7 linked regions of the Homo sapiens genome follow. The protein of the gene in region 1 purifies or fractionates together with the protein of each later gene. This does not show direct contact. Each region holds a gene or a part of one and is shown in the gene's direction. Other genes may lie near its edges. The genes, in order: WDFY3, FLCN, VSIG4, NPTN, CLEC2D, RIC3 and HTR1E.

Region 1 (3,500 bases):
TTAGGGGACTCAAGAAATAATAGTTCAGTTGAAGACCAAAAACACCTGGCTTTATTGGTTATGGAGACCTTGACAGTGCTTCTTCAAGGATCAAACACAAATGCAGGTAATTTAAAAAGCTGCAAGCAAATACTTTGGGAGATTACCACTGATTACATCTTCTGTGGTTATTCTTGCTTCTGAAATCTTCCTGTCACTTTAGAGAAAAAACTATTGATTCAGTGATGGTACCCGTCATGTCCCTAAAAATGCAGTGCTTTTGACCATCAGGAGCACCTTGATGACAAAACATATAAGATTGTTACTATTTCAAAATGATGTTTAAATTGCTTTTTATAGTGTCTTGTGTTGAAAGTATTCTTCTAATTTTTTATTGATACACTCTTACTCAAATAAGTTGCTATTTAAATTCTTTCTAAAATATTTTCTTTACACAGTGATTTAAAGAATATTTTTAGTACTACAAGTTAGAGTATTATAATGTTACAACCTTCAGGAAATACTGAACAATGATTCTCTAATAAAACGTAATCTCTCCAAGGTTAATTAACTTTACTAAATATTTTGTTTAATTTTGGTCTCAATTTCTCTTTTATACTTTTCTACCTGTCATTAACAGATAACCTAACTATATTTATAAAATATCACTCTTGCTTTTTAAAAAAGATTACTTGAGATTTTAATTAACATCAAACAACTCTCAGGTAATAAGTTCAGTACAACTTGAGAGGAATAATGAGTTCAGATTAGTAGGCTGGGCTCAAATCATAGGGAGCTTTTTAGGCCATGGTAAGGAGCTTGAAATATATTTTAAGTGTTATGGAAAGCCATGGATGAATGAACCCCATGCCCAAATGCATGACTGTTTGCCTGAATGCAGGGAAACTCAGCATTCATCATATTTAAAATATATTGTGTATCCCAGGTACCATGCTAGCTAGGTGTTAGATTATTCTAACACCTAGATGCTAAGGTAAGATCATTCTTGCTCCCTGGGAATTAGAATCTAGTGAAGAAAAATGTAGACACATAATTATAGAAGTAATTAGTCTGATACAAATTTGGCAAATGCTAAGATAGACTTGAATGAATTTAACAGGTAATTGAAACAATGAGTATGATGAATTTTAGTGGATACTATAGTAACATTTTGTCTATGGCATAATGCATAATCTTATTTCCACTAACTAGGTTTAGTTAACTGAGATAATCAGAAACATAATGAAGATAGACTAACAGGAATTTGCTTAGCAAATTAGCTTTCCTTGAGACGACCTAGAAGTTGCACAGGAAGAGATTGGACAATTGGAGAGCTTACTCTGCACGACTAAAAGTCACTTAGTACATATCCCAAAGTGCCAAACAATTTCATACAATTCTTTTCAGTTTTTCTTTTCCCAGTATGAAAGATGTTACTAGCTGTGTGATGTTAGGCATTTAAAACAGTACTTTACTCATAGTTTAAGTATTTAAATAATATTAGCCATTATGATTATCTAGTGGGTCCTAACTGACAACCAGGAGGTAACTAAACAGGCCTTCAGGTAATGAAAGGATGTCACAAATTCCATGTGCTGAATCTCAAGCACATGGCTTAGACTGACTTCATGATCTTATAATTTTTATAAAGTTAACAAATAGAAAGCCACTAAGCAGAGAGGACAGTGGCTGCTATAGCAGAATACACTGTTTTAGTAAACGTTTATTGAAACACAAATCAGGAGAAAATCCAGTAGTCATGGAAGACCAAACATAAGCAATAATAGTAAGACTGTTTGTTATAAACCATAATAGAGATATAAACAAGATGCCCTAAAAACGTAAGGGATAGAAGAATTACTTAGAGGAAATACTAATTAGTGATTTCAGTCACTGGGCCCATTTTTTTAATACTGGAGGATGATATTAATATTTGATGTGAGAACAGTATCACTTGTGAGCAGGAGCACAGGCTTACAGAGCTGGGCTATGTAGGCATACATCCTTTTCTGTTGCTTACTAGCTGTATGACTTTGACCGCCTTACCTCTATATGGTAGGGGATGAGTATTAAGTAAGTCAATCTGTGTAAAGGCTTTGGAGCAGTAACAATGACACATACTTCTGTTACAGAATTTGTCACTTTTTGTTCTTATGCTCTACCTGTGCAACAAAACATGTTGGTTCCTTGTAATTTTTCCCATGGTGGAATAATTTATTCCATTCCTTTCTTGCTACTATTTTGGAAGCCATGTTCATTTAAATCTCCTTTATTTAGGCTATTGTTCCTCTGAAAGCCTTTTACATAAGTTGATTACAATAGAGAGTCTCCTAGGGTCTGCCTAAGAGACTTGTGAATGTTCTAGATTTTGAGAGCTTGGACATGGTGAACATATCACGGCATTAATCTTGCATTAAGGAAATGTAGAGAAAATTTGCATATACCTTTGCTGACAACCCACTGTGCAAATTTGTATTGTAATTTAAAAGGTGAAATAGTTGGGTAGGTTTTATTTACATTATTATGAGTTACTTTACCTACAAAAAATAACTGAATGTTAATTCATCTGACTTGTCTCAGAATATTTTAAAGTAGCCATTGTTGGACTTTTTCTCCTTCCTTCAAGGAATTTTTCGAGAATTTGGAGGTGCAAGATGTGCACATAATATAGTAAAGTACCCTCAATGCCGGCAGCATGCCTTGATGACTATCCAACAGCTGGTGCTCTCCCCAAATGGGGACGATGACATGGGCACTCTCCTGGGGCTAATGCATTCAGCCCCACCGACGGAATTGCAGTTGAAGACTGATATTTTAAGGGTAAGTTTGATAAATGTGTTTCCCTTCTTTTACTACTAAAATCTGTGGTTATTTTTAGATGATCTGTATTTAAGTTAGAGACAGGGAAATTAAAAAAAATCCAAATTACCCAAGAAACCTCACAACTTTGTACACGTTAGGAACTTGGAAAAACTCCAGTCATTTATGTCTTTCAGTATATATTTTACTTCTGCTGATAAACCTTTTCAGTAATTATCTTGACTTACTGGAACTCTTAAATTAAATATTAGTGAAGTATAGGATCTTAATTAATACTAAATATATGTATTTTCTGATCAGTTAAATTCACTCATAGTGTTATGCATCTGTGAAATGAATGTTAGATTTGGCATTTTATACACATGCATGCATATATGTATGTATGTAAGTAATGGATATTCTAGTAGATATCAAACAATATACCAGGAGTTATACATATGCTTTTATCATTTACTCCTTAGTAATACTATAAATTAAGTAGCACCCTGTTTTGCAGATGAGAAAACTTAGGTTTAGAGAAATCATATAACATGGATTTTGTTCACTTAAGTGACTTTTAATTAGTAGAACCGACCCCCAGATTTCAATACCCGTTTTATTTCCACAGCACCATTGTTTTATACAGATTTATACACTCACATTCTCCCATATTACTGGTTATTGATATTATAAGAAATGATATGTAAGAAATTTTTAGAATC
Region 2 (3,500 bases), on another chromosome or scaffold:
AAGGCTTCGTTGGGAGGATCACTTGAGCCCAGAAGATTGAGGCTGCAGTAAGCCGTGATCGTGCCACTGCATTCCAGCCTGGGCAACAGAGCGAGACACTGTCTCAAATAAAAAAGATGGGAATAGTAGACACTGGGGGCTCCAGAAGGAGGGAGGGAGGGAGGAAGGGGAGGAAGGGCTGAAATGCTTTCTATTGGATACTATCTGGGCATATTACTTCCTGTGGTTCACTGTCTGGGTGACAGGATTCATAGAAGCCCAAACTTTAGCACCACGCAGCATACCCTTGTAACAAAGCCGCACACGTACGCCCTCAAGCTAAAACAAAAGTGGACCGGGAGGCCGAGGTCGGGGGATCATGAGGTCAGGAGTTTGAGACCAGCCTGGCAGATAACGGTGAAACCCCGTCTCTACTAAAAATACCAAAAAAAGTTAGCCGGACATGGTGGCAGGTGCCTGTAGTCCCAGCTACTTGGGAGGCTGGGGCAGAAGAATCGCTTGAACCCAGGAGGCGGAGGTTGCAGTGAGCCGAGATTGCGCCACTGCACTCCAGCCTGTGCGACAGAGTGAGACTCCGTCTCAAAAAAAAAAAAAAAAAAAAAAGTGGAAAAAAAAGAAACAACGTGTAGATCCTCGAGAACTGTGGCCGACTGGGTGTGTTCCGTAGACACGCTGTTGGCATTTTTCTTACTGATTTGAGTTTTCTCACCAGCAGAGAACAGCTGACGGTCTTTCCATAAGTGCTTCTAAGAGAGATGTGTGGTACCCCGGGCTAAGTAGACAGCAACTGAGCCCTCCCTCCCACCCCAGGGCTCCCAGAGCAACAGGGAGCAGGGAGCATAGGACCTGGCCGCAGCCAGGAATCTACACTGACCGGCTCAGCCCATGAAGTATCTTGGGCTGAAGTCACAGGATGAGACTGTTTGTATCTGTAACTGTCCTTGTCATCTGTCTTGCAGATTTAGAAGAGGAATCAGAAAGCTGGGACAACTCTGAGGCTGAAGAGGAGGAGAAAGCCCCTGTGTTGCCAGAGAGTACAGAAGGGCGGGAGCTGACCCAGGGCCCGGCAGAGTCCTCCTCTCTCTCAGGCTGTGGGAGCTGGCAGCCCCGGAAGCTGCCAGTCTTCAAGTCCCTCCGGCACATGAGGCAGGTAGGCGGCAGGGGCACAGCGCATCAGGAGCTCAGGAGGAGAGCCAGTCATGGGCTGTCCCTGCCCACACGCCTTGCCTCTGGACCCTCCACCTTCAAAACCCTGCAGGAAGTGACTGACAGCCTCCTCGGTGGGTGGCTGAGGGCACAGGGCGTTGGGGGTATTAGCCATAGGATCAGTGCTCCCCTTTCAGTGATGACCTAAGTATCTTCAAAGAAAAGCCCAGATAGTTGGCATCCCATGGTCCTCTAATCCTCTAAGAAGCTCCTAAAGGCATTGAACAGCACTGTAATTGGTTTGGATGCAGCCTGGACCCTGCCCATTGTAAGTGATGGTCTGGCTGGGCGTGGTGGCTCTCACCTGTAATCCCAGCACTTTGGGAGGCCAAGGGGGAGCGGATCACGAGGTCAGGAGTTCGAGACCAGCCTGGCCAACATGGTGAAACCCCATCTCTATTAATACAAAAATTAGCTGGGCATGGTGGCATGTGCCTGTAGTCCCAGCTACTTGGAGGCTGAGGCAGGAGAATCGCTTGAACCTGGGAGGTGGAGGTTAACAGTGAGCCAAGATGGCACCACTGCACTCCAGACTGGTGACAGAGCGAGACTCCATCTCAAAAAAAAAAAAAAAAAGAAAGTGATGGTCATTCTTACAAAAAATTAGGAACAACTTGCATATCAAACCATACTAGTAAACAGTAGCCAAACCATGGAATATGATTAATTAGAAGAAATAAAGCAGGCACTGTGTGTTCAGGGTGATGTATGTACATGTGTGCCTGCCAGACACGACAAAATCTAACAGTGTTGTCTCCAGTTACATCGAGTCAGATGCCGGGAGAGAGGGGTGTGGGTTGCTGGATTACAAGGGCAGGCTGCCTTCTTATAAAATTCTTCTGCATGAATTTTTCCAATGAGCACTGATTCATTAGAAGAGAGTTATTTGTTTTTGAAAATGGAGTGAGACTGATTTCATGGCAGATGTCCTTGGGGCTTCTGGATGTAAACACCCATTCCATCAAAATCCTGCATTTGGCTGAAACCTTCCTTGTCCGTTGCTTATGTTGATGAAGGTTGGAAGGGGTCTGGAATTCCTCTGGAGGTGGGACTACTTTGAGGCTGTTGGGGTTTGGTGAGACATAGTATTGTGGCCTCTCTCTTATGTTGTGTTTCAAAGCTGGGTTTGGCTTCTTAGAAGCCGTGAGACAGCAGGCTGGACTCTCCTAAGGTGTCAATGTCATGGAAGTTAATAACAGGTGGGGTGTGGGGAGAGGCTGTTCTAGGTTAAAGAATAAGGACGTGACAACTAAAAGCCATGATGGGTCCTGTAGTATCTCCTGGATCCAAAGAACAGCAGCCGTCAAGCAGGCAGCAGCCCTGGGCTTGTGCACACGGCTGGATGTCAGATGCGTCCGTCCAGGCACTCCTGGCTGCAGTCATGGTCTCAGCTGTGGAGATGCCCTTATTCTCCTGGGTGCTGCCATGTCGAGGGCCCTACAGCTTGCTTTCAAATGGTTCAGCAGAAAGTGTCTGTAGAGAGAAGGTGAATATTGCACAAAGTTAACATCTTTTTGCTTCAAATTTTTAAAAACAAAACTGGGAGAAAGATCTTGGAGCAAGAGCTTTGGAATCTAGCATTTATGTGCAAACCTGGAACTTCTCTCTCTGCCCCTTTAACCCTGGGCCGGGCACCCGCCTCCCTGAGAAGATAAGTGTCTTTCTCCTGAGCCCTGTCTTTGCTCTACAAAGTTTTATGAACACACAAATAACTTCATGGGAAGGGAGAGAAAAACCATTTCTACTAGTCACGCTGAAAGCACTGCACTCTCTTGTTTAGGTCCTGGGTGCCCCTTCTTTCCGCATGCTGGCCTGGCACGTTCTCATGGGGAACCAGGTGATCTGGAAAAGCAGAGACGTGGACCTCGTCCAGTCAGCTTTTGAAGTACTTCGGGTGAGAACATCTTTTCCTTAGGTGTGCGGCGCAGGGCAGTATTGGCCTGGTGCCTGGCGTCAGGTGGGGATGCCAAGGTGCACCGACTGCCCAGCACAGAACCGCTGTGCACCACACGGTCTCCACTGGGGGCGCAGTGGGCACGGAGACCCGGGTCTGGTCTGATGATGTTTAAATCATCAGAAGGATGCGTGTGCCTGCTGACTGCCCAGGCCTGAGAGGGAACAAAAATGCATATGACACAGTCTTGGTAAAAGCTTCTTTGTGGGATGCGGTAGGAGACAAACATCTGTGCAGGCAAACATTAATATGAGTTAACACCACAGAGCGAGGGGCGGTACAAGCTGGTGTGTGACTGGCGGTCCAGACAAGAGTTAGGGACCTGGTGGTGGAGGACCCT
Region 3 (3,500 bases), on another chromosome or scaffold:
TATATTATATTATTATATAATATATATTATATGATATATTATATTACATTATATATTATATTATATGATATATTATATGATATATTATATTATATGATATATTATATTATATATTATATAATATAATATAATATATCATATAATATATCATATAATATAATATATCATATAATATATTATATAATAAAATATATAATATAATATATAATATAATATATTATTATATATATAATATATTATATAACATATTATATATATAATAATATATAATATTATATAATATATTATATTATATATAATATAATATAATATATATTATATTATATTATATATTATTAATATATTATAATTATATAATATATATATTATATAATTATAATATATTAATAATATATCGTATTATATATATTATATTATATTATATATTATATTATTAAAATATTATCTATATTATAAATATATTATATTATATTTTTATTATATTATAATATTACTTCCTTTATTATTACTTCCACTTTACTGATAGTGACTCAAAGTTCAGATAGGTTTAGTAATTTACCCAAGGTCACACAGAGAGATATGTGGTAAGGCAGACCTTGCGCTTAGATCAGTGTTATTCCTACTACATCATACAGTCCTTCATTACCCTCCTGCTCTCATTAGGGGCTCCTACTTGATTCTAGGGGAACTACAAGGAAAGGTAGAAGGTACAAGTCAGTGGTATTGTGGTTTACTTCACTTTGGAGATCAGAAAACATGAGGAATAGTACAATGTCATTTTTCTTGTGATGTCCTGTACCTATAATCCAGTCTCTTTATGCAACTAATGAAGCAGGAGGAGGAAGAGGAGATAAGAATAAGAAAAAGAAGAAGGAAGAAAAAAGGAACGGAAGCATAATGGAACAATGAGTGGAAGAAATAAAGGAGGAAGAAGGGAGAGGAAAAAAAAAGTAAAAGGGGAAAAAACATGCCATTTTGGGAAGTCTAGTTACCAACTCTGTCCTATTCATTCTGGGATGGAGGAGTTAAGCCTGACCTACTTCCAGAAGTGATTTTCAAAACTGAGAAATTGAGACTATCTAGCAATTTTCTTGATAGGCCAGACTGAGCTTTGTGAGAATTTCCAGCAAATTCCCAGGGAGGAAAAACACAACCCAGGCCTTTCAGCTCCCCTAAGGTCAGAAGGAAGACCTGCATATGCATAGACAAAGGCATTTTCAACTCACAGCAGAATGCTGCTTTGTTGCCCAAGAGGGGAATGTGAGAATGCTTTTCAGAGAAGAGGAGGGACATTGGGAAAGTCCAGAGGAAGATTAATGGGAAATAGCCTATTAAACCAAGAGGCTCAGATAGTTTTCATGGGGTTTAAGCATGGTATGTTTGTGCTTGCATGTGGCCAAAAATATGTATGGGCATGTGAGTCCATGATAATGAAAAGCTGTATCTGCAATCACATGGAGGTGTGAACTATCTATGGCACAGTGAAACCCACTACCTGGTGAAAATTCACCACCAGCTGGAACCTATAATTACATAACTTCTATTTCTATTATAGCCTATTAACACTTGACCACCTAAGATTAGAAGGGACCTTAAAGAGCAAGGCTAAGACCCAAACAAAGCCTAGAACTTCCCCCAGACAGTTTAATCCATCCATAGACAGCTCTGATTAATCACAAAGTTCGTTCTAAGGCAAACCATCTGTTCTGCGATGTGAAAAGCAGACAAGAATAACATAAAAAGAAATAGAATTAGGAAAATAGAGCAAACCAAAATCTGCCCCTCTTGTATTCCCATTCGTAGGTCTGAGTTCTGCTCTCTGCCAAATTCGAAGCATTCCAGAGAGTATGTAGTGGATCTAGCAACATGGACTTATGTTATTTATTCTTTTCTACTCAAGGGCTTTTTCTTGACTAAAATATGCTATTGATGTTCTAAGGGTCCCTGGTGAGGGCACAGGCTAGAGGCTTGATTTTATATCTCTATTAACAGAAGTCCTGATGCTGGACAGTATATTCTGGGAGTTAGAACGCATACACTCAACCCATCCAAAAGATGTCATCTTCCATCCGCTTGACTGAATACTGGGATTTCTAGGCTCAATAAAAGACTTTTATTCAGGAATACCTCATATCTTTGAAACCACCTCTCTTAGGAGAGACATGAATATATTGCCTAAATATACCCACCCCACACTCCTGGCCCCAGCTAAATAAAACAAAAAATCTTCTAAATAAGAGCTTATGGATGGAAAATTCTGATGGGAGGCAATGGCTGTTTCAACATCCCCACCTCCTTCCCCACCCCCACCCCCATCCCCAAGGGTTTCCTTCTCAAACACGCCAAGGAGCAATCTCCCATTGCTTCTATCACCACCCCTACTACAGCCAGCTTCAGGATTTCACTCAGAACCTTTTCCTCTCTAGACCAAAAATGGATGCAATCTTTTCCCCCTCAAGATGAAATTTTCCTATGTATCCTTGCTAAGAACTAAGAGAAACCAAAAGGAAAATAAACAAAAGAAATCAGAAAAAAAGTCAGGTTTACAAAGTGCAGGTTTTGAATTTAACAATAGCTAATGATTTTGTTAAACAGGAATGTGTATCCAGACTTCTTCCTCACACTTGGTTCCACCCTCAGTATTTCCTTTTGCCTGTCTTCCAGAGAACATCTTAGGGTTGGGACCCCACTCACTGAGGATTTCTAAGGGAACAAGAGAAGATAACAGGGCAGAGGGCCCTTTCTTGCTGATCTCAAAAGCCTCCACCTTTCTCCAGGTGCAAATTTACACAAAATGAAATAGTCCAGACCCAAATGCTTAGCATTTTTGCTTCCACATCTCTTTTGGAAAATGTGAAAAGAAAATTTTTTCATGGATTTGCAGAATGACAGATTTGATAGAATATCTAGAGCACCTACCACCCAAACTCTCCACATTATAGATGAAGTAAATGAATCTTCCACGGTAAGAAGGTGACTTACCTAGGATCACCTTCATAGCAAGACAGTAACATAAAAAGGACTTGAAACTCACAAGATCTAAACAATGTTAAAGGCTTTCATTCTGAAGACTGGTTCTGATTGATGAGAAGGCTGGCAAAGAGCAAAAGGGCACAGGTACACAAAAGTGTGATAGAAAGAAAGTTGAGTGGCATTTCTCAGAAACCTTTTGAGGTTTGTCACTGTCACCTTAGTTGCCAAGTAGGTATGCCATCTACGTTTGCTTCTTTCCTCTGTTCCGCCTCTTCAGGCCGTCCCATCCTGGAAGTGCCAGAGAGTGTAACAGGACCTTGGAAAGGGGATGTGAATCTTCCCTGCACCTATGACCCCCTGCAAGGCTACACCCAAGTCTTGGTGAAGTGGCTGGTACAACGTGGCTCAGACCCTGTCACCATCTTTCTACGTGACTCTTCTGGAGACCATATCCAGCAGGCAAAGTACCAGGGCCGCCTGCATGTGAGCCACAAGGTTCCAGGAGATGTATCCCTCCAATTGAGCAC
Region 4 (3,500 bases), on another chromosome or scaffold:
TATCAGATAACCATCTGTGGCTCTGTGTTGGATTTTTTTTATACCATTAGGAAAATGGGAATTTTTTTATAGGCCTGCCATACTTCTACTTTGCCAAATAGCACTTTATTATCAAGATACACCCATGGCTCATTTCAGACTCACTGAACTTTTTTTATATGAATGCACAGTCGTCATATTTTGGGCAGTCTGTGAGTTCTTGGTAACTCATCCCCTTACTACAAAAGCACTAAGTGAACAATACAAAAGTATAAAAGCACAAATTTGAACTTACATAGTTTAGTTTAAGTATGTTTCACTAGAAAATCAAATATTTAGATTTCTCACATTGAAAATGCTTAGGATTGAGGTTTAGCTGCTTCCTTTAAAAAAAAAAAAAAAAAAAAAGCCCCATGTCTTTTTTCTTTACCTACTGGAGTATTCTCAGACCATTTCCTACATGAAAACACCCACCTGCATTCCTTTAGTCCCCTGTATGGTCTCTTTGAGGATCAGTGCCCACTAGGTTGTCTTGTAGGTGGACTAATCTACAGATCACCTTTACCTTCAGTATTTTCAGGAACAAGTGAATCATGGAGTCAAATAAGAGCTTTGTTTTGTTCACTTGACTCACCACTTGACTGTATTCCCTGAAAATGTTAAATGATAGTTCTCTAAAAAGACCAGGTCAAGCTAGCAGCCTCTAGGCTTCCATCCATGTCACAGCTGGGCACCTGCTTGGGTGCACCTTCTGTGTTGGTGTCCTGCGGACTGCACTCCAGGAGCAGTCAGCCTGTGCTCCTGAGTCTCCCCTCCCCAGGCCCTGGAGGAATGGGGAGTGAACCCACTTAGTTGCTGAGGCCTGCAGTTCTTCTGGATATTTTAGTGACCTCACAGACAGCAAATTAAAACAGGAGCTGATTTAAGAAAAGAAGTGCTGGTACCAAAAAAGAACTTTCTGTTTTTACCTTGGGATAATTTTTTATAAGCAAGTCAAAGGGACTCTCTTTAAGTTACTGATGGAGAAGATATTTGAGGTTTTTTGGGGGGCCATTTTTAGTGGCTCTGATATATCCAAGCTCTTTTAGACACTTTAGAATGAAGAGCTGTTCTAATGTTCCAAAATCTATTCGTTGGTCAAAACATTTGGTAGCATATGAAGCTTTATACAGACTAGGGATATTGGAAAAGAAATGTGACTTTTAAAATGACACCTAAAACATGCATTCGGTGTCTGGTCTGTTAACTAGGGGCCATCTGGGTCAATAACAAGTTACCTCATGGAGAAAATGCAATAGGACCAAACAAGGAAGGAAATAGGAAGTAACTCAGTCTCTCTTGGGTTTAATGCTAACCTGCTAAGGTCAGGCAAAATTTAAGTGGATTTAGAAACCATAAAACCTTCTAGTGAGATGAATGCAGTGACAAAGGACCTTTGACCAGAGAGTCAACTCTTCATTATTCGGACTTTAAAGCCATCTTTTTGGAGGTGATATTGTATTAGGCAATCCGTTATTTACTAGACATTGCAGAGCACCCCTTCTAGATGATGAGGCGGATATAGGGGGAGTGAGGGCTGTGGTCCATTCGGTTGGGAAGATGGAACACGCAGATAAATCAGTGTGTGCTACAGTTCCACCGGTAACTTCACTCTCATAAGGTGGATTCCAGAAGCATCTTGTTTCCATTATCCCCCCAGTCCTCTTCCTCTCATCTAGCCAGTGGCTGTAATACTGAGGTGGAGAGAACAGTCATTGTTTAAGCTGGCTATCTTTTGGCCTGAGGGTTTGGGGTATGTTGATATTTGTCGGTTACTATGACTTCTTTTTTTTCCCCCCTCAATTGCATCAAACCCTTAAAACATGGTGGTAAGTGAGCGATATGCATGCTTTTGGAGTTTGTTTAATCTCCGCTTCAGTCTATACGATGCACAGTTCATAATGTTAACACTTTTCTTCAAGTTTACTTCATTCACTTTCACAACTAATTTGGATTTCAGTTTGCTGTTTAATCCTCATTTACTTTGGTTTCTGTATCTTTTTTCTGTAATTCTGTTCTTTCCCTCTCCCCTGACTTCCCTGTTAGGGGTCAAGTCGTTTTTTTGTCTGACCTGTAGGGGAGAGTGGTGCTGCAGATAGTGATTCAGTCCAGGAGAGTGGGGAGACATGAGGCTCTTTTGTTTGTCAGTGTGAAAGTGGATTTGGGGAGACAGATGAAGAGGGCTCCTGGGATTTTGCCCCCTTGTGAATCTCAACTGCTCCCACTTGCAGGCATGGCAGCTATGCCGGAGGCACTGTCGCTAAAACACCTCCATGCAACCCTTTGCATGTTACCAGCTTGTTGGGCTGGAAAGTGACATTACTAATCAGACACCAGGGAATACCCACACTCCAAAAGGAAAAACAGCCCGTGGTGTGAGGTGCTTGGGTTGGTGCCTACAGTGTCATGCTTTGAAAAGATTAGCCTGGCTATTGCGATTCTCCCTCCCCTGCTTTTTATTTTAAATTTGGGAGTAGATTGGTGTATTCTTGATTCGGCTCTCTTGCATTAGAATTTTGTATTTTCGAGTGCACAGCCAGAGCACTAAAAGTATTCCAAGTTTGCTCCTATGTCTTTTCATTTAAATCCCCAAAGTGCTTAGTTCCTAGCATGTAGCTGAGCTGGCTTGGCCGGGATGCTGAGCATTAGGATGTTGTGAGGGGAGAATTTAGGCTGGGCTTTTGTGTCTTAGTACCTGGTATGTCTTTGTATCTCTCCACTGCATACACAGCACACAGATGTCTTGGGTGTCCTTAAGTCTTAGTTTGTTCTCTGTACCCGTTTGATAGTGTATACTGTTGTTAGTAGTGGACTCCTGTGGACACTAGTGTGTCGCTAGCCTATTGTTTTGGCTGATGAGTCATTGGTTTGTGGTTAGTTCTTTTTTTTGAAATCCTTTTTTGCTCCAGTCACTGTGTGTGCTGGCGGTGGCTTTGCCTCTCCGTTGCCTCGAAGGAACAGGTGGAGCAATGTCTCCCTCTGACAGACATTACTCCCGACATGTGCTCCTGCAGATGCCTACACTGAGACTGTAATCTCCATAACTGCTTCATGTGCACCAAGCCCCCTTGTGGAATCCTGCTGAGAATTTTTCTAGAAGCCTTCAGTGAAATCAAACTGTTCTGAATCATTTAGTTTACCTGACTTTTGTATAATAAAAACAAACTAAGAGCACTTACTTGTTCCCTTCCCCTTGTGGGTCTTTTTAAAACATTCTCTCTCTGTGAATGTGTATCTCTGCTTAAAGGGGATCAAGTTGCACTTAGTTGAAACACGAAAGACTTATAAATCAGAATCATAAAGTATCAATTTAAGAAGGCTTAAACTCATATAATGTCAGCTTTTTGATTTTAAAAAAGTTATCTCATGGCTCCCCTGGGTTTGGCTTCTGGTTTTGGCCAGGGCACAGGAGTGAGCCTGTCTTTCTGAAGTCTTTTCTAGAGGGATGTCACCACTGTTCAGCTTTCCTCGGTGTGTCACAG
Region 5 (3,500 bases), on another chromosome or scaffold:
ATTTTTTTAAGTTCCTTGTAGATTCTAGATATTAGCTGTTTGTCAAACGGATAGATTGCAAAATTTGTCTCCCATTCTGTAGGTTGCCTGTTCACTCTGATGATAGTTTGTTTTTTGTGTTTGTTTTTTTTTTTTTTTTTTTGTGCAGAAGCTCTTTAGTTAAATTAGATCCCGCTTGTCAATTTTTGCTTTTGTTGCAATTGCTTTTGGTGTTTTAATCATAAAACCTTTGCCCATGCCTGTGTCCTGAATGGTATTGCCTAGGTTTTGTTCTCAGGTTTTTATGGTTTTAGGTCTTATGTTTAAGTCTTTAATCCATCTTGAGCTAATTTTTGTGTAAGGTGTAAGGAAGGGGTCCAGCTTCAGTTTTCTGCATATGGCTAGCCAGTTTTCTCAACACCATTTATTAAATAGGGAATCCTTTCCCCCATTGCTTGTTTTTGTCAGGTTTGTCAAAGATCAGATGGTTGTAGATGTTGGGTGTTATTTCTGAGGCCTCTGTTCTGTCCATTGGTCAATATATCTGTTTTGGTACCAACACCATGCTGTTTTGGTTACTGTAGCCTTATAGTTTAATTTGAAGTCAGGTAGCATGATGCCTCCAGCTTAGTTCTTTTTGCTTAGGATTGTCTTGGCTATACAGGCTCTTTTTTGGTTCCATATGAAATTTAAAGTTTTTTTTTTTTTAATTCTGTGAAGAAAGTCAATGGTAGCTTGATGGGAATAGCATTCAATCTATAAATTACTTTGAGCTATATGACTATTTTCATAATATTGATTCTTCCTATCTATGAGCATGGAATGATTTTCCATTTGTTTGTGTCATCTCTTATTTCCTTGAGCAGTGATTTGTAGTTCTCCTTGAAGAGGTCCTTCACATCTCTTGTAAGTTGTATTCTTAGGTATTTTATTCTCTTAGTAGCAATTGTGAATGGGAGTTCACTCATGATTTGGCTCTCTGTTTGTCTGTTATTGGTGTATAGGAATGCTTGTGATTTTTGCACATTGATTTCGTATCCTGAGAATTTGCTGAAGTTGCTTATCAGCTTAATAAGTTTTAAGGGGATGAGACAATGGGGTTTTCTAAATATACAATTCTGTCATCTGCAAACAGAGATAATTTGACTTCCTCTCTTCCTGTTGAATACACTTTCTTTCTTTCTTTCTTTTACCTGATTGCCCTGACTAGAACTTCCAATACTATATTGAATAGGAGTGGTGAGAGAGGGCATCCTTGCCTTGTGCCAGTTTACAAAGGGAATGCTTCCAGCTTTTGGCCACTCAGTATGATATTCGCTATGAGTTTGTCATAAATAGCTTTTATTATTTTAATGTATGTTCCATCAATACCTAGTCTATTGTGTGTTTTTATCATGAAGGGGTGTTCAATTTTATCAAAGGCCTTTTCTGCATCTGTTGAGATCATCATGTGGTTTTTGTCATTGGTTCTGCTTATGTAATGGATTACATTTATTAATTTACATATATTGAACCAGACTTTCATCCCAGGGATGAAACTGACTTGATCGTGGTGGATAAGCTTTTGATGTGCTGCTGGATTCGGCTGGCCAGTATTTTATTGAGGATTTTTGCATTGATGTTCATCAGGAATATTGGCCTGAAATTTTCTTTTTTGTTGTATCTCTGCTAGGTTTTGGTATCAGGATGATGCTGGTCTCATATAATGAGTTAGGGAGAATTCCTTCTTTTTCTATTGTTTGGAATAATTTCAGAAGGAATGGTACCAGCTCCTCTTCGTACCTCTGGTAGAATTCGGCAGTGCATTTGTCTGGACATGGGCTTGTTTTGGTTGGGTAGGCTATTAATTACTGCCTCAGTTTCAGAACCTGTTATTGGTCTATTCAGGAATCTGATTTCTTCCTGGTTTAGTCTTGGGAGGGTGTATGTGTCCAGGAATTTATCCATTTCTTCCTTGCCTGGGTATCACCAGCAAAGGCTGAAGAAAAGCAAAGATTGCTGCCTGCTCCTTCCTCTGGAAGCTTCATCCCAGAGGGGCACGCACCAGATGCCAGCTGAGCTGTCCTGTATGAGGTGCCTATCAACCCCTGCTAGGAGTTGTCTCCCAGTCAGGAGGCATGGGGGTCAGGGACCCACTTGAAAAGGCAGTCTTTCCCTCAGAAGAGCTCGAGCACTGTGCTGGGAGATCCACTGCTCTTTTCAGAGCTGGCTGGCAGGAATGTTTAAGTCTCCTGAAGCCGTGACCACAGCCACCCTTTCCCCCAGGTGCTCTGTCCCAGGGAGATAAGAGTTTTATCTATAAGCCCCTGACTGGGGCTGCTGCCTTTCTTTCAGAGATGCCCTGCCCAGAGAGGAGGAATCTAGAGAGGCAGTCCGGCTGCAGTGGCTTTGCTGCACTGGCTTTGCTGCACTGTGGTGGGCTCCGCCCAGTCCGAACTTCCCCCAGGGCTTTGTTTACACTGTGAGGGGAAAATCACCTACTCAAGCCTCAGTAATGGCGGATGCACCTCCCCTCACCAAGCTTGAGCATCTGGGGTCCACTTCAGACTGCTGTGCTGGCAGCAAGAATTTCCAGCCAGTGGGTCTTAGCTTGCTGGGCTCTGTGGGGATTGGACCCACTGAGCAAGACCACTTGGCTCCCTGGCTTCAGCCCCCTTTCCAGCAGAGTGAATGATTCTGTCTCAGTGGGTTCCAGGCTCCACTGGGGTATGAAAAAAACTCCTGCAGTTATCTTGGTGACTGCCCAAATCGCCACCCAGTTTTGTGCTTGAAACCCAGGGTTCTGGTAGTGTTGGCACTCCAGAGAATCTCCTGGTCTGTGGGTTGCAAAAACCGTGGGAAAAGCGTAGTATCTGGGCCAGATAGCACCTCACAGCACAGTCCCTCACAACTTCCCTTGGCTAGGGGAGGGAGTTCTCCCACCCCTTGTGCTTCCTGGGTGAAGCAGCGCCCCACCCTGCTTCTGCTTGCCCTCTGTGGGCTGCACCCACTTGTGTAACCAGTCCCAGTGAGATGATCCTGGTACCTCAGTTGGAAATGCAGAAATCACCTGCCTTCTGCATTGGTCTCACTGGGAACTGCAGACCAGAGCTGTTTCTAATCAGCCATCTTGCCCTCTCTGGTCTGGTCGTTTTCTTTAAATTGGTTGATACAGGAGCAGTGATAGCACAACAAATATGCACAGATTTGGGGAAAGTCATCCTGCATTATGGTCTGGTTCAAGAAATTACATTTTAATAGTTATAATTTGGTATCACCTTGTTTGTGATACCAAACCAGATACAATACACGTTTGCCTCATGTTATGATTTGTTATTCAGATTACACCAGTTATTATTCATAACTAAGAGTGATTTCTCATCTCACAAGAGCCAAATCCAAGGATAATGGTGCCAATTGATAGTAATGATTCTATGAATACCCAGCATTCTGGTCTATCATAGACACTTTCAGAACCATTGAGTTGAAGGTAGAAGGTGGTTATATAATAGAAGATGAACTGGTAGCTACTAGGGGCTCAG
Region 6 (3,500 bases), on another chromosome or scaffold:
AGTCCCCAGAGTGTGATATTCCCCTTCCTGTGTCCATGTGATCTCATTGTTCAATTCCCACCTATGAGTGAGAATATGCGGTGTTTGGTTTTTTGTTCTTGCGATAGTTTACTGAGAATGATGATTTCCAATTTCATCCATGTCCCTACAAAGGACATGAACTCTTCATTTTTTATGGCTGCATAGTATTCCATGGTATATATGTGCCACATTTTCTTAATCTAGTCTATCATTGTTGGACATTTGGGTTGGTTCCAAGTCTTTGCTATTGTGAATAATGCCGCAATAAACATACGTGTGCATGTGTCTTTATAGCAGCATAATTTATAGTCCTTTGGGTATATACCCAGTAATGGGATGGCTAGGTCAAATGGTATTTCTAGTTCTAGATCCCTGAGGAATCACCACACTGACTTCCACAATGGTTGAACTAGTTTACAGTCCCACCAACAGTGTAAAAGTGTTCCTATTTCTCCACATCCTCTCCAGCACCTGTTGTTTCCTGACTTTTTAATGATTGCCATTCTAACTGGTGTGAGATGGTATCTCATTGTGGTTTTGATTTGCATTTCTCTGATGGCCAGTGATGATGAGCATTTTTTCATGTGTTTTTTGGCTGCATAAATGTCTTCTTTTGAGAAGTGTCTGTTCATGTCCTTCACCCACTTTTTGATGGGGTTGTTTGTTTTTTTCTTGTAAATTTGTTTGAGTTCATCGTAGATTCTGGATATTAGCCCTTTGTCAGATGAGTAGGTTGCGAAAATTTTCTCCCATTTTGTAGGTTGCCTGTTCACTCTGATGGTAGTTTCTTTTGCTGTGCAGAAGCTCTTTAGTTTCATTAGATCCCATTTGACAATTTTGTCTTTTGTTGCCATCGCTTTTGGTGTTCTGGACATGAAGTCCTTGCCCATGCCTGTGTCCTGAATGGTAATGCCTAGGTTTTCTTCTAGGGTTTTTATGGTTTTAGGTCTAAGGTTTAAGGCTTTAATCCATCTTGAATTGATTTTTGTATAAGGTGTAAGGAAGGGATCCAGTTTCAGCTTTCTACATATGGCTAGCCAGTTATCCCAGCACCATTTATTAAATAGGGAATCCTTTCCCCATTGCTTGTTTTTCTCAGGTTTGTCAAAGGTCTGATCGTTGTAGATATGCGGCGTTATTTCTGAGGGCTCTGTTCTGTTCCATTGATCTATATCTCTGTTTTGGTACCAGTACCATGCTGTTTTGGTTACTGTAGCCTTGTAGTATAGTTTGAAGTCAGGTAGCATGATGCCTCCAGCTTTGTTCTTTTGGCTTAGGATTGCCTTGGCGATGCGGGCTCTTTTTTGGTTCCATATGAACTTTAAAGTAGTTTTTTCCAATTCTGTGAAGAAAGTCATTGGTAGCTTTATGGGGATGGCATTGAATCTGTAAATTACCTTGGGCAGTATGGCCATTTTCACGATACTGATTCTTCCTACCCATGAGCATGGAATGTTCTTCCGTTTGTTTGTATCCTCTTTTATTTCCTTGAGCAGTGGTTTGTAGTTCTCCTTGAAGAGGTCCTTCACATCCCTTGTAAGTTGGATTCCTAGGTATTTTATTCTCTTTGAAGCAATTGTGAATGGGAGTTCACTCATGATTTGACTCTCTGTTTGTCTGTTATTGGTGTATAAGAATGCTTGTGATTTTTGTACATTGATTTTGTATCCTGAGACTTTGCTGAAGTTGCTTATCAGCTTAAGGAGATTTTGGGCTGAGACAATGGGGTTTTCTAGATATACAGTCATGTCGTCTGCAAACAGAGACAATTTGACTTCCTCTTTTCCTAATTGAATACCCTTTATTTCCTTCTCCTGCCTAATTGCCCTGGCCAGAACTTCCAACACTATGTTGAATAGGAGTGGTGAGAGAGGGCATCCCTGTCTTGTGCCAGTTTTCAAAGGGAATGCTTCCAGTTTTTGCCCATTCAGTATGATATTGGCTATGGGTTTGTCATAGATAGATCTTATTATTTTGAAATACGTCCCATCAATACCTAATTTATTGAGAGTTTTTAGCATGAAGGGTTGTTGAATTTTGTCAAAGGCTTTTTCTGCATCTATTGAGATAATCCTGTGGTTTTTGTCTTTGGCTCTGTTTATATGCTGGATTACATTTATTGATTTGCGTATATTGAACCAGCCTTGCATCCCAGGGATGAAGCCCACTTGATCATGGTGGATAAGCTTTTTGATGTGCTGCTGGATTCGTTTTGCCAGTATTTTATTGAGGATTTTTGCATCAATGTTCATCAAGGATATTGGTCTAAAATTCTCTTTTTTGGTTGTGTCTCTGCCCGGCTTTGGTATCAGAATGATGCTGGCCTCATAAAATGAGTTAGGGAGGATTCCCTCTTTTTCTATTGATTGGAGTAGTTTCAGAAGGAATGGTACCAGTTCCTCCTTGTACCTCTGATAGAATTCGGCTGTGAATCCATCTGGTCCTGGACTCTTTTTGGTTGGTAAACTATTGATTATTGCCACAATTTCAGCTCCTGTTACTGGTCTATTCAGAGATTCAACTTCTTCCTGGTTTAGTCTTGGGAGAGTGTATGTGTTGAGGAATTTATCCATTTCTTCTAGATTTTCTAGTTTTTTTGCGTAGAGGTGTTTGTAGTATTCTCTGATGGTAGTTTGTATTTCTGTGGGATAGGTGGTGATATCCCCTTTATCATTTTTTATTGTGTCTATTTGATTCTTCTCTCTTTTTTTCTTTATTAGTGTTGCTAGCGGTCTATCAATTTTGTTGATCCTTTCAAAAAACCAGCTCCTGGATTCATTAATTTTTTGAAGGGTTTTTTGTGTCTCTATTTCCTTCAGTTCTGCTCTGATTTTAGTTATTTCTTGCCTTCTGCTAGCTTTTGAATGTGTTTGCTCTTGCTTTTCTAGTTCTTTTAATTGTGATGTTAGGGTGTCAATTTTGGATCTTTCCTGCTTTCTCCTGTGGGCATTTAGTGCTATAAATTTCCCTCTACACACTGCTTTGAATGCGTCCCAGAGATTCTGGTATGTTGTGTCTTTGTTCTCGTTGGTTTCAAAGAACATCTTTATTTCTGCCTTCGTTTCGTTATGTATCCAGTAGTCATTCAGGAGCAGGTTGTTCAGTTTCCATGTAGTTGAGCGGTTTTGAGTGAGATTCTTAATCCTGAGTTCTAGTTTGATTGCACTGTGGTCTGAGAGAGTTTGTTATAATCTCTGTTCTTTTACATTTGCTGAGGAGAGCTTTACTTCCAAGTATGTGGTCAATTTTGGAATAGTTGTGGTGTGGTGCTGAAAAAAATGTATATTCTGTTGATTTGGGGTGGAGAGTTCTGTAGGTGTCTATTAGGTCCACTTGGTGCAGAGCTGAGTTCAATTCCTGGGTATCCTTGTTGACTTTCTGTCTCGTTGATCTGTCTAATGTTGACAGTGGGGTGTTAAAGTCTCCCATTATTAATGTGTGGGAGTCTAAGTCTCTTTGTAGGTCACTCAGGACTTGCT
Region 7 (3,500 bases), on another chromosome or scaffold:
CTTGTCTCAAAAAAAGAAAAGAAAAGAAAGAAAAAGAAAGTAGGTCTCTTTGCAGAAAGCCTCAGGCCCTGAACTTTTGTGTCATCTTCTCATTACTCAAGTCTAATTCCCTACATCTCACTTTTACACACAGATCATTTTTTTCATGTTTGTTTTGATTGCCCACCCTGGAATTCTATTTCTGCACTACCCTTTAAAAGTGAAAGATCAAATCTAACGCTCTAATGTGGGAAAGCATTCCCTCTATTTCTACAAGCTTATTTACACAAAAAAATAAGCTTGAGACTGATCAAAAGCTGAATTTCTACCAAATAGGAACTTACTTTTTATGCCGTAAATTATCAAGGCCATCTCAAGGCAGAGGTGAGTTTAGCATCTCATGCTTTATGCTCCTTTCTTCTGCACCTACCAGATTTTTATTACATGTGAAATTATATGAACATAAACCCCAGGGAAACATTGAAGATGAGTGTGCCGTCACAAGTGACGAGGGGACAGATGAACAGGGAAGAGAAATGGGGCAGCAGCACTTTAGAGTGACTTACTTCTCTCTTGTTTTCTCCTCCCTGAATCATTTTCTAGAACCAGTATTGTGGCCCCTAAAATTTGGGGCTTAGGTCAGTCAACTTACCAAAGTTCATCTTCCTGGTGATGAAAGGACTTTCATCAAAATCCCAGCTACTTTTTATTCGTTCCCACATTTTGTGGATTAAGAAACTGAGAACCAGAATTTATAGAGATCACTCAATCAATTGGCATATTCCCGGATCACAACAAATTGATAAAATTCTTGAGAACCCTCTTTCTAATACAGATTGACTATAATTTTGTCTTTCATTTTTAGTTCTCTTATTTTGTCTCATGCACTGTGGATTATCTGGTTTACTGCAGTCCTTACCTGAATAGATGTCAGTGTTTTGATCCCATTGTTGTATTCCCCTAAAACACGTCAAATGAAAAACTGGACACTTTAATAGGTTTATTGTTAGCACTCTCTCATGCTGATCAATTCTCAACACATGCAGTTGTAGGATTAGGAAGACAAAATCCTTTAGAAGAAGCTATGAAACCTAATCCTTCTGCATCTGGATCATTTTAAACTACAAGTTGTAAGAGGAATGAGCATCTCTGGATTCTAGTTATCAGTGCAGACCAGATGGAAGGTCTTTATGAAATCTGGTATGAGAAGGAAAGCATTTTATAGCAAGAAGAAAATATTTTGAGAAATAGCTACCAGCAGCAGCAGCTAGCAGTTCTAAAACTCTCAGATCCTCCTAATGACCCCATTAGGGAGGGAGGAAGGGAGCAAGGAAGGAAGGAATGAAGGAAGGAAAGAAGAAAGGAAGGAAGGAAGGAAGGAAGGGAAGGAGGGAAGGAGGGAAGTGTTATAAATATTGGTCAGGGAAAAGTTTTATTATTAATGACAGATTAAATAATTAGCTACTAGGAAAATTCAAGGGGATACATAAAAATGCCATTAGAAAGAATAAGAGAACCCAGTAAGGTGGCTAGCTACAATAGCTTGCCTGGTTAGCGACAATATAATCATAGGGATTTATATTACGCTTGTACACTGTTGGGCAGAAAACATGCCTGAGAGGTATAAAAGATGCTGTTAGCATCCAAGAAAAATGGGAAAGGAAAGCCCACCTCATCTGAGGAAGATGGAGGAAGAAGAACCTACAGAAAAGGATTCCACATTCCAAACTCATCCCTCTGAATTCAGTAATATTTATCCTTATATGATTTCTGACAGTGTAGTTTGTCATTGTAATTAATTCTTTCCTGTAAGTAAACAAGAATTGTATACTTACTTAAGTACCTTACATTTTAAACTTTATTACATAGTCCTAATTTTAATGTTGAACTCTGCCCTAGTCAAGGAAGTATTTGTTACCTAACACAAGAATTTGATATACAGTCATCCATAAACACTATCCTACCATATAGTTCATCATAATTTAACATTCAAAGAAAGAAGCATGATTTCCTCTTTTATTATGCTTTCATTTGAGCCATTTTAACTTTCTTACCATTCTTTCCTTCTGAACCTAATTCAATTCCTTACACAATGCTCTAAAAAATCAAGGATTAAATATGTAACTTAATTTATAATTAGCAAATACATCATTTACAAGATGCATTCATATTGGCAAGCATATTTTATTTCATAGATTGTAAACTGGTAAAACAATGTAATCTCCTCACCCTCTCTGCAATACAGTAAGCCTGTTTCTAAGACCATCAAGGTTTTACTTTATGTCCGAGGCATTGGAGAACCAGACTGTACTGACCCCAGGGTTTGGTGACTTACATATAAATGAAGCATCTTACCAAGAAGGGATGAAAAATGACTTTAGAGGAAGCAAAAGTCTCAAAGCTCACAAGACTTGATTACTTTCAGCTTGGTGACAGAGGCAATGCTCTTGTGATGCAGATGGAGTAATTTCTCCAGCACAAAAGATGTCCAGCCGGGTCCCATTGGCTTTGAGATAATCTCTCACATTGCATTAAGTGTACTGAGTACCCTTTCTCAGACTTATGTACCATTAGCATGCATTTAATTAACAGTTAATGATTACATAGTATTGTTACTATTACCACATAGTCCTGTTATATTAAAATACATGAAATTTGTAGCTATGTTTTGCCTGTTTAGTAAAATGAGTCTGAATCTAAGGGTGAGAGGGTCTACACACAGCCAAGAGGATGGGGTATTAACCCAGGCCTGTGTGAAGATATTTGCATCTCATGGAATGCTCTCCAGAGAACAAACTGACCTACCCTGTGCATGTCAGCTAAGCTCCCGCCAGCTTCCTCAGGGCTTGCTGAATGTACAGTGAGTGCCACAGTGCCAGCGTGGCAGTGAAGCACAGGCCCAACTCTACGGACCTGGGGTCAGAAGGCCTGGGTTAATACCCCATTCTCTTGGCTGTATGAGCTGCATGGTCTGTCATCGTTACAATGGGGACAATAATACATGCCCTGTCTACCTCAGCCTCCTTTCAGGGAAGTTTCTCAAAACAGAATATGCTATTGTGATTCATTGTCACCTGTGATGTCAAACTGCACCTTGTGTTATACTACTAGGGGGTAACACAGCATGGGGCTCAAGCCCAAGCTCTCGAGTCCAGAAAGCCAGGTTCATATCCCAGCTCTGCCATTCATTAACTGCTTTCACATCTCTAAACCTCAGTTTCCTCATTTGTTGGGGCTCACATAACAGTACTATGTCATAGGGCTATTTATGAGGATTAAATGTGTGTATTCATTATTGCTAAATAATAAATTACCCCAAAACCTAATGGCTTAAAGCAACAGATTTTTATTATCTCTATGATCATAGTTCCATGGGTTGGGAATCTGGGTATGGCTTAGCTAGGTCCTCTGGCTCAGGTCTGTCACTCACAGGCTGCAAAGTTTCAGCCGAGACTGCAGACATCTCAAGGCTCAACTGGGGAAAGGTAACGCTTCCAAGCTCGCTCACGTGGCTGTTGACA

Evidence for each region.
Region 2: the proteins of WDFY3 (region 1) and FLCN purify together in Homo sapiens (affinity purification with mass spectrometry; 2 studies listed by BioGRID and IntAct, with this or other methods). This does not show direct contact.
Region 3: the proteins of WDFY3 (region 1) and VSIG4 purify together in Homo sapiens (co-immunoprecipitation; one large-scale study listed by IntAct). This does not show direct contact.
Region 4: the proteins of WDFY3 (region 1) and NPTN purify together in Homo sapiens (co-immunoprecipitation; one large-scale study listed by IntAct). This does not show direct contact.
Region 5: the proteins of WDFY3 (region 1) and CLEC2D purify together in Homo sapiens (co-immunoprecipitation; one large-scale study listed by IntAct). This does not show direct contact.
Region 6: the proteins of WDFY3 (region 1) and RIC3 purify together in Homo sapiens (co-immunoprecipitation; one large-scale study listed by IntAct). This does not show direct contact.
Region 7: the proteins of WDFY3 (region 1) and HTR1E purify together in Homo sapiens (co-immunoprecipitation; one large-scale study listed by IntAct). This does not show direct contact.

Annotation. Positions count from the first base shown.
Region 1 is NC_000004.12:84,816,691-84,820,190, reverse strand, and holds part of WDFY3 (WD repeat and FYVE domain-containing protein 3), read left to right. Parts: intron 1-4; coding exon 5-106; intron 107-2,605; coding exon 2,606-2,799; intron 2,800-3,500. UniProt on the Homo sapiens protein: Required for selective macroautophagy (aggrephagy). Acts as an adapter protein by linking specific proteins destined for degradation to the core autophagic machinery members, such as the ATG5-ATG12-ATG16L E3-like ligase, SQSTM1 and LC3.
Region 2 is NC_000017.11:17,216,669-17,220,168, reverse strand, and holds part of FLCN (folliculin), read left to right. Parts: exon of another isoform or gene 1-602; intron 603-959; coding exon 960-1,150; intron 1,151-2,986; coding exon 2,987-3,100; intron 3,101-3,500. UniProt on the Homo sapiens protein: Multi-functional protein, involved in both the cellular response to amino acid availability and in the regulation of glycolysis.
Region 3 is NC_000023.11:66,033,581-66,037,080, reverse strand, and holds part of VSIG4 (V-set and immunoglobulin domain-containing protein 4 isoform 1 precursor), read left to right. Parts: intron 1-3,250; coding exon 3,251-3,500. UniProt on the Homo sapiens protein: Phagocytic receptor, strong negative regulator of T-cell proliferation and IL2 production. Potent inhibitor of the alternative complement pathway convertases.
Region 4 is NC_000015.10:73,563,890-73,567,389, reverse strand, and holds part of NPTN (neuroplastin isoform b precursor), read left to right. Parts: exon of another isoform or gene 1-452; intron 453-3,500. UniProt on the Homo sapiens protein: Probable homophilic and heterophilic cell adhesion molecule involved in long term potentiation at hippocampal excitatory synapses through activation of p38MAPK. May also regulate neurite outgrowth by activating the FGFR1 signaling pathway.
Region 5 is NC_000012.12:9,683,213-9,686,712, forward strand, and holds part of CLEC2D (C-type lectin domain family 2 member D), read left to right. Parts: intron 1-3,500. UniProt on the Homo sapiens protein: Receptor for KLRB1 that protects target cells against natural killer cell-mediated lysis. Inhibits osteoclast formation. Inhibits bone resorption. Modulates the release of interferon-gamma. Binds high molecular weight sulfated glycosaminoglycans.
Region 6 is NC_000011.10:8,141,526-8,145,025, reverse strand, and holds part of RIC3 (protein RIC-3 isoform a precursor), read left to right. Parts: intron 1-3,500. UniProt on the Homo sapiens protein: Molecular chaperone which facilitates proper subunit assembly and surface trafficking of alpha-7 (CHRNA7) and alpha-8 (CHRNA8) nicotinic acetylcholine receptors.
Region 7 is NC_000006.12:86,940,528-86,944,027, forward strand, and holds part of HTR1E (5-hydroxytryptamine receptor 1E), read left to right. Parts: intron 1-3,500. UniProt on the Homo sapiens protein: G-protein coupled receptor for 5-hydroxytryptamine (serotonin). Also functions as a receptor for various alkaloids and psychoactive substances.